2 separate regions of the Homo sapiens genome follow, and region 1 is linked to region 2. Evidence: fine-mapped expression QTL. A gene starts in region 2. The other region holds a variant in brackets. All regions are shown on one strand. Distances are between the middles of the regions.

The links. PIP is the estimated chance that this variant, and not a neighbour inherited with it, causes the effect. A credible set is the group of variants that fine-mapping cannot tell apart.
Region 1: its variant is the best candidate, but not a certain one, in a credible set for the expression of KATNBL1 in skeletal muscle (GTEx, PIP 0.76).

What each region holds. Positions count from the first base shown.
Region 1 is chr15:34,131,016-34,135,415 of GRCh38, reverse strand. No RefSeq gene overlaps it. Among named protein-coding and RNA genes, the nearest start is that of PGBD4, 31 kb to the right of the region's middle. The variant A/G (reference allele first, on the strand shown) is at 2,286.
Region 2 is chr15:34,207,530-34,211,929 of GRCh38, reverse strand. It overlaps KATNBL1 (katanin regulatory subunit B1 like 1), which reads left to right and starts at 1,834. Exons shown (of 10, transcript NM_024713.3): 1 at 1,834-1,979. RefSeq lists a silencer at 1,890-2,289.

The sequences.
Region 1 (4,400 bases), 77 kb after region 2:
CCTGCCTCAGCCTCCTGAGTAGCTAGGACTATAGGCATGCGCCACCACTCCCAGCTACTTTTTGTATTTTTAGTAGAGATGGGTTTCAGAATGTTAGCCAGGCTGGCCTCAAACTCCTGACCTCAGGCAGTCCACCCACCTCGGCCTCCAAAGTGCTGGGATTACAGGTGTGAGCCACCACGCCTGGCCTGTTATGTTTGTCTGTTAATTAGTCTTTTGTTTCATCTTTTAAGAAAAAAGCAACAGCTGACTATATAGTGGGAAAAGCTTCCTCCAGTACATTCCAGTAATGTTTATTAGCAGTTATCTGAGTAAGTTGTAACACAGCCATTATAAGCCAAGTGTTAAAGATACCAAAGAAACATATTTGGGTCAACATTCAACAAGTAGGTTGTAAGTAACAACTGCAACTTAATTGTATATTAAAGTTGTATATAAAGAACAGAGCCTCAGGGGGCATGGGAAAAAAAAAAAGAACCTCAAAATTAAAGTTCAATCTCTGGAATTTTTTTCTTCAAGGTTGACTAATATATATCTCTTTTCTTGTTAGTCATTCTGATTATACAGCTCTCTAAAGTCTTATTTCAGGTTTCCCAAAACTTTTATTGGAAAATTAATAGTTTTATGTCCCAACTAATGTTAATAGGTATGATTAAGAGTATGTCTAAATTTCTCTATTTATTGCATGTCCTTGTTTCTAGATGATAAACACAGGCATTGAGCTGCCAGGTACTTGGTGTGTAATAAAATGTCAACTGGTTGAGGTAGTGAGGCTCTCCATAATAAACAGATTACTTGCTATATGCTCGTTAATGTTAAGTGCAAAGGTAAGGTACAGTCCCTACCCTCAAAAAGTTGTTCCGAAATACTAAATGTATTGTGTTTCTAAAAGCATACTATTTTGGAAAAGACTTTGAAAGCTTTAGTTCTAACTTATACTTTTAGGAAGATCCAGATCTAAGCAATTTCAAACTCAAATGTAAAATATAGTATTGCGTTTTGTAAAACCCATTTTTTCTTTATATGTAGTATGTTACTTTTTTCTCCATGACTGGCTACAGAAGGAAGCTATTTGCACTGCTGTCAATAGGACCCTCAGAACTTTATCATCAAATCTCAAGTAATAATTAGGCTTAATAGAGAGTTTTGTATACCATGGCCATCCCTGTTTATTTCTCAGTTAGATATATGATATTCATACTTATATATTAGTTCATTATCCATACTGTGATGTCTTTTGAGGACGTAGCATCCAGTGGACTAAGGTACAACTTTCAAGGGCATTTTGTCTTAGGTTCTTTCTTCCTTCCCTACACATTTTGACTTGTAGAATGGGTAGCTGCTGGGAAGTTTTCCCTACAAGAACTTGACGTGGAAAAATTCTGATTACATCATTTCCAAATCATCCTTTTTCTTGGCTATAAATTTCAAAAATTGTTAAACATCTTAATGTTCTTTGACATCACACCATTATTATTTTCACTGAAATGATGACTATCTTGTTTAGCCATTAATACCTTTGAAGCCAGAGATGTCCCACTGGAGAAACTAATATAATTCAAATTTAAACATTTGCTAAAAAAAGAAAAAAAAGTATTTCTACTTCTTTTTGATAATTTGCTTTTTTTTTTCTTCTACATGCTGTGTACATCCTTGTTCCTATTTAATTTAGATTCTAAGTCCGCTAGACTATACACCCTTCAGTGCTTGTGTCCTGAGTCATACTGAGTAAATAGCTGCTTGGTAAATTCTAAGTATTGGTTTTTAATTTTTTTCTTCCTGAATTGTTGCAGCAACATTCTATCTAAATTACTACTTTTGGCTCTTCAGGAAAAAGTGACATTTTAATTATAAATGATATACAAAATCAAAACTATAGACAGAGCTCCTTTGGGCTTGTGAAGGCATCACCTTTTGTTTTGGGGGGTTTTGTGTTTGTTTTTTTTTTGTTTTGTTTTAATAAAGACAGGGTCTTCCTATATTTCCCAGGCTGGTCTTGAACTCTTGGCCTCAAGATACCCTCCCATGTCAGCCCACCAAAGTGTTGAGACTACAGACATGAGCCACTGCACCCAACCACCATTATCTTGTATAGAAAGAACTTTTTATGTAAATTATGTAAAATCATAGCCTTTAAATATACCCATTCCTCACCTCCACTTCTCTGTGTTATAAAATACTATTACCTGGTGAAATTGACATTGTACAGTGGTTATGCAGTGACTGGATTGTATTCCTAATGCACAAGATGAAACCATGTGTGAAAAGCACTCCCTTTTTTGTGG[A/G]TGTGTGGTTAGCCTAGAAGAAATACATTCCCTGAACTGTCTCCAGTGAAATTACTGAACTTTTAACTCCAAAGTTGCGTATGTCCTGGATATTTATTTGAGTTTTTCCTTTTAAGGAATCAGAAGGAAGCTGTTCCTTAGCACATGCAGAGTCATAAATACTGTAACACAGGGGAAAAGATACTGGTATAGGATTAGGGGACTCTGAGTTTCAAACACTTAACATTGAGGCTCAGATTATCAGGTGAAGTAGGTTTTATGTACTTGGATTATGAGAAATGAGTCTGACTTCAGCTCAACATCCCAAAATAATAATAGGCTCTGCTCCACGATAATAAAGTCCTCAATATACTGTACAACTTCTGCTTTGACACCACAGTGCAAAATTATCTTAAAACTATGCCAAATTGGGAGACATTTAGATTTTATGTCATCTGAAGCCTTTTTTATATTCCTGAAGGCTGGCCTAGAAGCCGAGCTAAATCCTTAATCCTTAACAAACTTAAGCTCCTTCACTATAGCCTGACCTGCCCCTTTTTGTATACTTCAGATATTAAAGATCTCAGTAAACGTACAACAGCTAGTTAATTGTAAGTTTTGAATTTCTGTATTTATAGAAACATTACAACACTTTATTTGGAACAGCATTCAATGAATGCATTGCCTTCTAAAGGGATTTGCTGAATCACTTGATCTAGTTTGTGATCCATTCAACACTTTCATAGAACTTAAACATTATGTGTGTGAAGCATCAGCACAGCTGTAATTGTGTCCCATAAGCACATTTTTTACTCCTACATTCAAATCTTGATTCCTACTCATGAGCTCTTTCAGCATTTTATACCTGTTTACTCAAAACAACTTGCCTAAGTCAGAGCTTTACAATAATCAGGTGATTTTTTTGTCCTCACCCTTTATTTTTCTCCCAAGAGTTAGTGTTTGATTGCAGCTTTACATCAATAAACATTTTAATGATTACTTGACTTCTTGATATTGTACCTATATGTGTTTTTTCTGCAATCAAAGATAATGCTAAAGAACACAAACATTTCACCCTTTCTAGAAAGAAGCCCTTGCTGTAATTGAGGAGAAAAAGTTTTTCTGGAGATTTATAATAATAGCTAACACTTAACGAATACTGCCAGGTAGTGATCTGAGCACTCGTATTCACTCCTTTTGTCCTCACAACAACCATATGGTAGGTATCATAGGTGTCCTTAAGAAATGAAAGTTCAGAGAATTTAACTGGTTTGCCCAAGTCTATACAGTTAATAACTGTTAAAGCAGACAGCCTAACTCCAGAGTTTATGCTCTTAACCATTCAGTTATGTTCTAGGAGAAAATAAAGAAGGGTGGAGGTGGAGCAGTCTTAGCAATATTTGTTTTTTGTTTGTTTGTTTGAGATGGAGTTTCACTCTTGTTGCCCAGGCTGGAGTGCAATGGCACGATCTTGGCTCACCGCAACCTCCGCCTCCGGGGTTCAAGCGTTACAGGCATTCGCCACCACGCCTGGCTAATTTTGTATTTTTAGTAGAGACGGGGTTTCTCCATGTTGGTCAGACTGGTCTTGAACTCCCAACGTCAGGTGATCCGCAATGCCTCAGCCTCCCAAAGTACTGGGATTATAGGCATGAGCCACCATGCCTGGCCACAATATTTGACCTTTGTTTTTTTGTTTGTTTTTGAAATGGAGTCTCACTCTGTCACCCAGGCTGGAGAGCAGTGGCACAATGTCGGCTTCTGGGTTCAAGCGATTCTCCTACCTCAGCCTCCCAAGTGGCGCCCGCCCCCATGCCCAGCTAATTTTTGTATTTTTAATAGAGACAGGGTTTCACCATGTTGGCCAGGCTGATCCCAAACTCCTGACCGCACGTGATCCACCCGCCTCGGCCTGCCCAAGTGCTGGGATACAGGTGTGAGCCATAGCTCCCGGCCAGTATTTGACCTTTGAATATGTCACTTCACTAAGTAGGCATTACTGTCACCCTTGACATATGTAAATTTTATATTTCTTCAAATAATGTTTTATTCTCTCAGGATATGTGTCTAATATTTGTTTCTTTTGTATGATATATGTTAAACCTTATATGAATGTTTTCATCTGTTTCTACCACA
Region 2 (4,400 bases):
TATAGTACACTCTTTTTACCCTATTCTTCTGATGAGAGGCCAGCACAGTGCCTTTTGCATAGTGGGTCATCAAGAAATTCCTGTTCATGATGATGAAGAAATGACTTGAGAGAAAGTGACTTCACCCATGTGTGTTGAATTTTTATTTTCTTTAAAACAACACATCTACTTAGTGGAAGTCATATTCAGGAAATATTCTTTATTGTACATACATGGAACCTAGGGCTCCAGCTTCCTTTACTCACCTAGCTGGACTCTCTCAACAGTACCACCTGTTAACAGATGTGGCCCCACACATAGGCATGTATGTGCCTTGCTTATGCTTGGTACAATCGAGAAGCTCTCAAAGGTGTTGCTTATGCCAAATATCCTAAAACTATTTTCCCACTGCCCTAAGGTCTTGCCTCAATTTTCAACATGACTTTTTTTTTTTTTTTGATTAAGTAAGGACTCTGTTACTAGGGAGGAAAAATACATAAAGTTATAACAACCTGATGACATCTTAGTTCTGATCAGTTTATCTGACAGGCCTCCCATTGCTCGGAACTCCCACGGCATTTAGGAGATACCTTTTATCACTGCAGTGTATTGGAATGATCTCTTTTCCTGTTTTTCAAGCCACTGAGAGCTGCTTCAGGCGATTTCCAGCACCAGGCACAATTTGCCTGGCACATGGCGGGCCTTCAAAAAGATTGTTAAACCAAACTTAAGCAGCCTGCTCCCTAGGCAAGCCTTGAGTTCCGAAATGAGTGCCTGAAAAAGCAAGCCAAGGGATGTAGTCTTGTGGTGAGGAAGTATTTCCACCAAAGGCACTGCTTGGTTGGTTTCTGCAAGGGGCGAGAGAACCACCATAGACAAACTTGCTCCTGTCACAGCTTGGCTAACCTTGACCGGTGGCTTATCTATGAAGGTGAGCAGCCTGGTTCTAATGAAGAGAACTGCCCTCAGTAATTAAAAGTTCATCATCTACAGACCCAACCCTAACCTCATAATCTAATTTAGTGTTCCCCATCCCAACAAGACCGAACCAGCTTCCTGAGGACAGGTTCTGCATCATGTACATTTCTTGTGTTCTTAAGAGTCTAGCACAAAGTTTGGCACATAATAGGAACTAAAAAAATGATGACTAACAAACACGAAGGGCTTACCATATGCCGGGCACTCCTCTAAGCATTTTATATGTATTAATTCATTTAATCCTCACAACACTAAGAGACAGATACTATTGTTATTGTCCCCATTTTACAGAAGGGGAAAGCAAAGCACCTAGGAGTTTATGTGACTTGCTCAAGGTCACATAGTTCCACAATCCATGCTTTTAGAAACTATGCCTTAGAGCGTTTATTAGTATCATTTTTATTTTTATAGAGACGGGGGCGGAGGTGGGGGGTGGGGGGTAGTTGTCCCCATGTCGTCCAGGCTGGTCTTGAATTCCTGGGCTTAGGTGAACCTCCTGCCTCGGCCTCCCAAAGTGCTGGGATTACAGGTGTGAGCCACTGTGCCCAGACTCTTAGTGTATTTAAATAGGTGTGAATGAATAAATCTCTCCCGGAACCATAACTTTATAGGAAATTGTTTGCACCTCCTGGTACACCACTAAGGCACGGTCTCCCACACTAGGTTGTTCCTAGCGCACGGTCGGTCATTCGTTGACCTTTACCCACCCTCAGTTCCTATCGCAGTATCACTTCTCGCGCCATAGCAAGGCTACCGTGCGAAGCTCTAGCCACCAGGGGGCACTGTGGCCACAGGTCCTTTTCCCCTCCGGCCCTTAGCGACCCCCAGAGGGGCGGAGCCAACGTTGGGCGGAGCCCGCGAGCCGCCCACAGCGCCAGCTATCCCGGCGGGCCGCGCGCGCGGCCGCGTTTGAATGGCCCTGAGTGGGACTCGGCCCAGAAGCCGAGGGACTCTCTAGGCTGCCGGGCGCTGGTCGTCAGCGCCGAGGCTGGGCTGAGGCGCCGCGGTACCATGAGGCGCCGGTAAGTGACTGCCGAGCCGGTGCGAGCCCCGCGCCCGCAGCTGCCCTGCCCTGGCAGGGCTACTCCAGCCGGGCTTGGCCGCGCCCTGGGCCCACCTGCAGGCCCCGCGGCGGCCTCGGCTCGGCCGGGCTCGCGGCAGCGCTGCCGGGTCCCGGGGCGGGGCGGCAAGGCCGGGGCGGAGCCCCTCTGCCGGTCCCTGCGGGGAGAGTCGGGCAGCGGGCGCTGGGGGGCTCCAGGGGACTGGGCCGGGAGAGGCGTGGACCGAACCTGTTGTCACTTATTTATCTTCGGGTGGAGTCGACAGCTGCACCTGGGGAAGGGGAAGGACAGAACGAGTGTGGGGCGAGCATTTTTGAGGACAGGTTTTCCGCAGAGCGCCTAGGCCCGGCCCAGGCATTTCCTTATTTTCCGACGGGTCCTCGGATTCCTGACGGATGAGCTTTTGTTTCGCAGGACAAAAACTTGACATAACTGCATAAGAATTGTCGATTGCAACTTTAAAAACCTTACTGTATTTTCTGAAAAGTTGTTCTGTAAAGTATCTAGGCTTTTACTACGCTCTTATATTGCTTAAATATGGAGATAACAAAGAGTTGGTTTGTTTTCTTGTGGCTTATAAAGTTCCTTGAAAACAGAGATACCTATGTCAGTTTCTTTGCTGATTTAAAAAAAATTGTAAGAGAAATTAGGTGTGTAATAATCATCAGTTCAGCACTTGCGAGAATTATGAGAAACTAGTCCACCTAATAGCTTAAATCTGCTGGGTTTTTTGGAGTTTCTTTGGATAGCCAGCTTCAGACTTGAATTGAAACGTCATCCATTGAGGCTTTTACTTGGCTAATAACTAATATTAGCCAATAATAATATTAGCCAGTGTGATCATAATGATGGGCAATATTTATTTTGTGCTTTCTATGCGCTGGGCGTATTAAGAGCTTTACTTTGGGATATATACTGTTGTCCCCATTTTGACAGTGAAGAAACTAAGGCACAGGAAATTTTAGTATTGTAACTTTTGTACCGTACAGGGTTACACAGCTAATATAATTAACACCCGAGCAGGCTGGCTCCACGCTTTTAACTCTGTTGCTCTACTACCTCCTTTATCTGTGGCTCTTTTTAGTTTACAAAGCCCTTTCATTTCATTTACTTAAACTTCGGAGACCTGAGTGTGCTTTTGTGTACACATACATTCATTCACACACCATTCATTCAAGTTTTCTGCTCTTGATGATTATACTTAAGGTTTGTGCCTGAGCAAAAAATCCATTGACTATTTTAAGATAAATGGAGTTCATAAGCTTTATGTGTGTTATAATTTATGTTTTCAATTCCTTTATATCCTTTCCTGAAAGTTTTGAAAGTGTTAGTCTTAGCAACTTATGTATTACTTTAAAATAAAAAATTACATGTTAAATGTTTTCATCCCTAAAACTTATTGAGTGGTTATTCTGTACTTGAAATGGTTATACTTAAACTAATACCTCCTTGACAAGGAATAAATTTCAAAAGCAAAATCACTTAGTAAGAAATCAGCAGTTTATACTTATCTATAGCAGAGCTTTTAAATGTCATTCATCAGTTACAAAGCTTTCGATTGCCTGTATGCCCAACAGGGTGGTAGACCCAATTGGCTATACAAAAGAAATGTGCCGCAAGAATGACACTATGGACTTTGGGGACTTGGTAGAAAGAGAGTGGGAGGGGGATGAAGGATAGAAGACTACACATTGGATACAGTGTTCACTGCTCAGGTAATGGGTGCACCAGAATCTCGGAAATCACCCCTGAAGAACTGATTCATGTAACCAAACACCACTTGTTCCCCAAAAACCTATTGAAATAAAAAATAATAAAAATAAAATAAAAAATGTGCCAGGACAACCAACCTTAGGGAGATTAATCTAGTTTGGGTTATGAGATTAACAACAAAAAATATATATGACACTCTTCGTTAGTACAGTGGATGAATGCAGAACTGAACTGGGTAAAGCTTCTGCGAAAAACTAACAATTGCAGGATTTATGTAGGGCACTGAACAGAAGGGTGGATGGTGGGGCTAGGCAGGGTTGGTAATCCCAACACTTTGGGAGGCCAAGACAGGAGGATCTCTGGAAGCCAGGAGTTCGAGAGCAGCCTAGGCAACATAGCGAGACCATATCTCTACAAAAAATTTAAAATATTTTGCCAGGCATGGTGGCATGTGTCTGTAGTCCCAGCTACTTGGGAGGCTGGGGTGGGAAGATCGCTTAAGCCCAAGAGGTCAAGGCTACAGTGAGCCGAGATTGTGCCACTGCACTTCAGTGCAGCCACAGAACTGGTGTGGCTCACACCTGTAATCCCAGCACTTTGGGAGGCCAACGGTAGGAGGAAAGCTTGAGCCCAGAAGTTTGAGACCAGCCTGGGCAACATACCAAGACT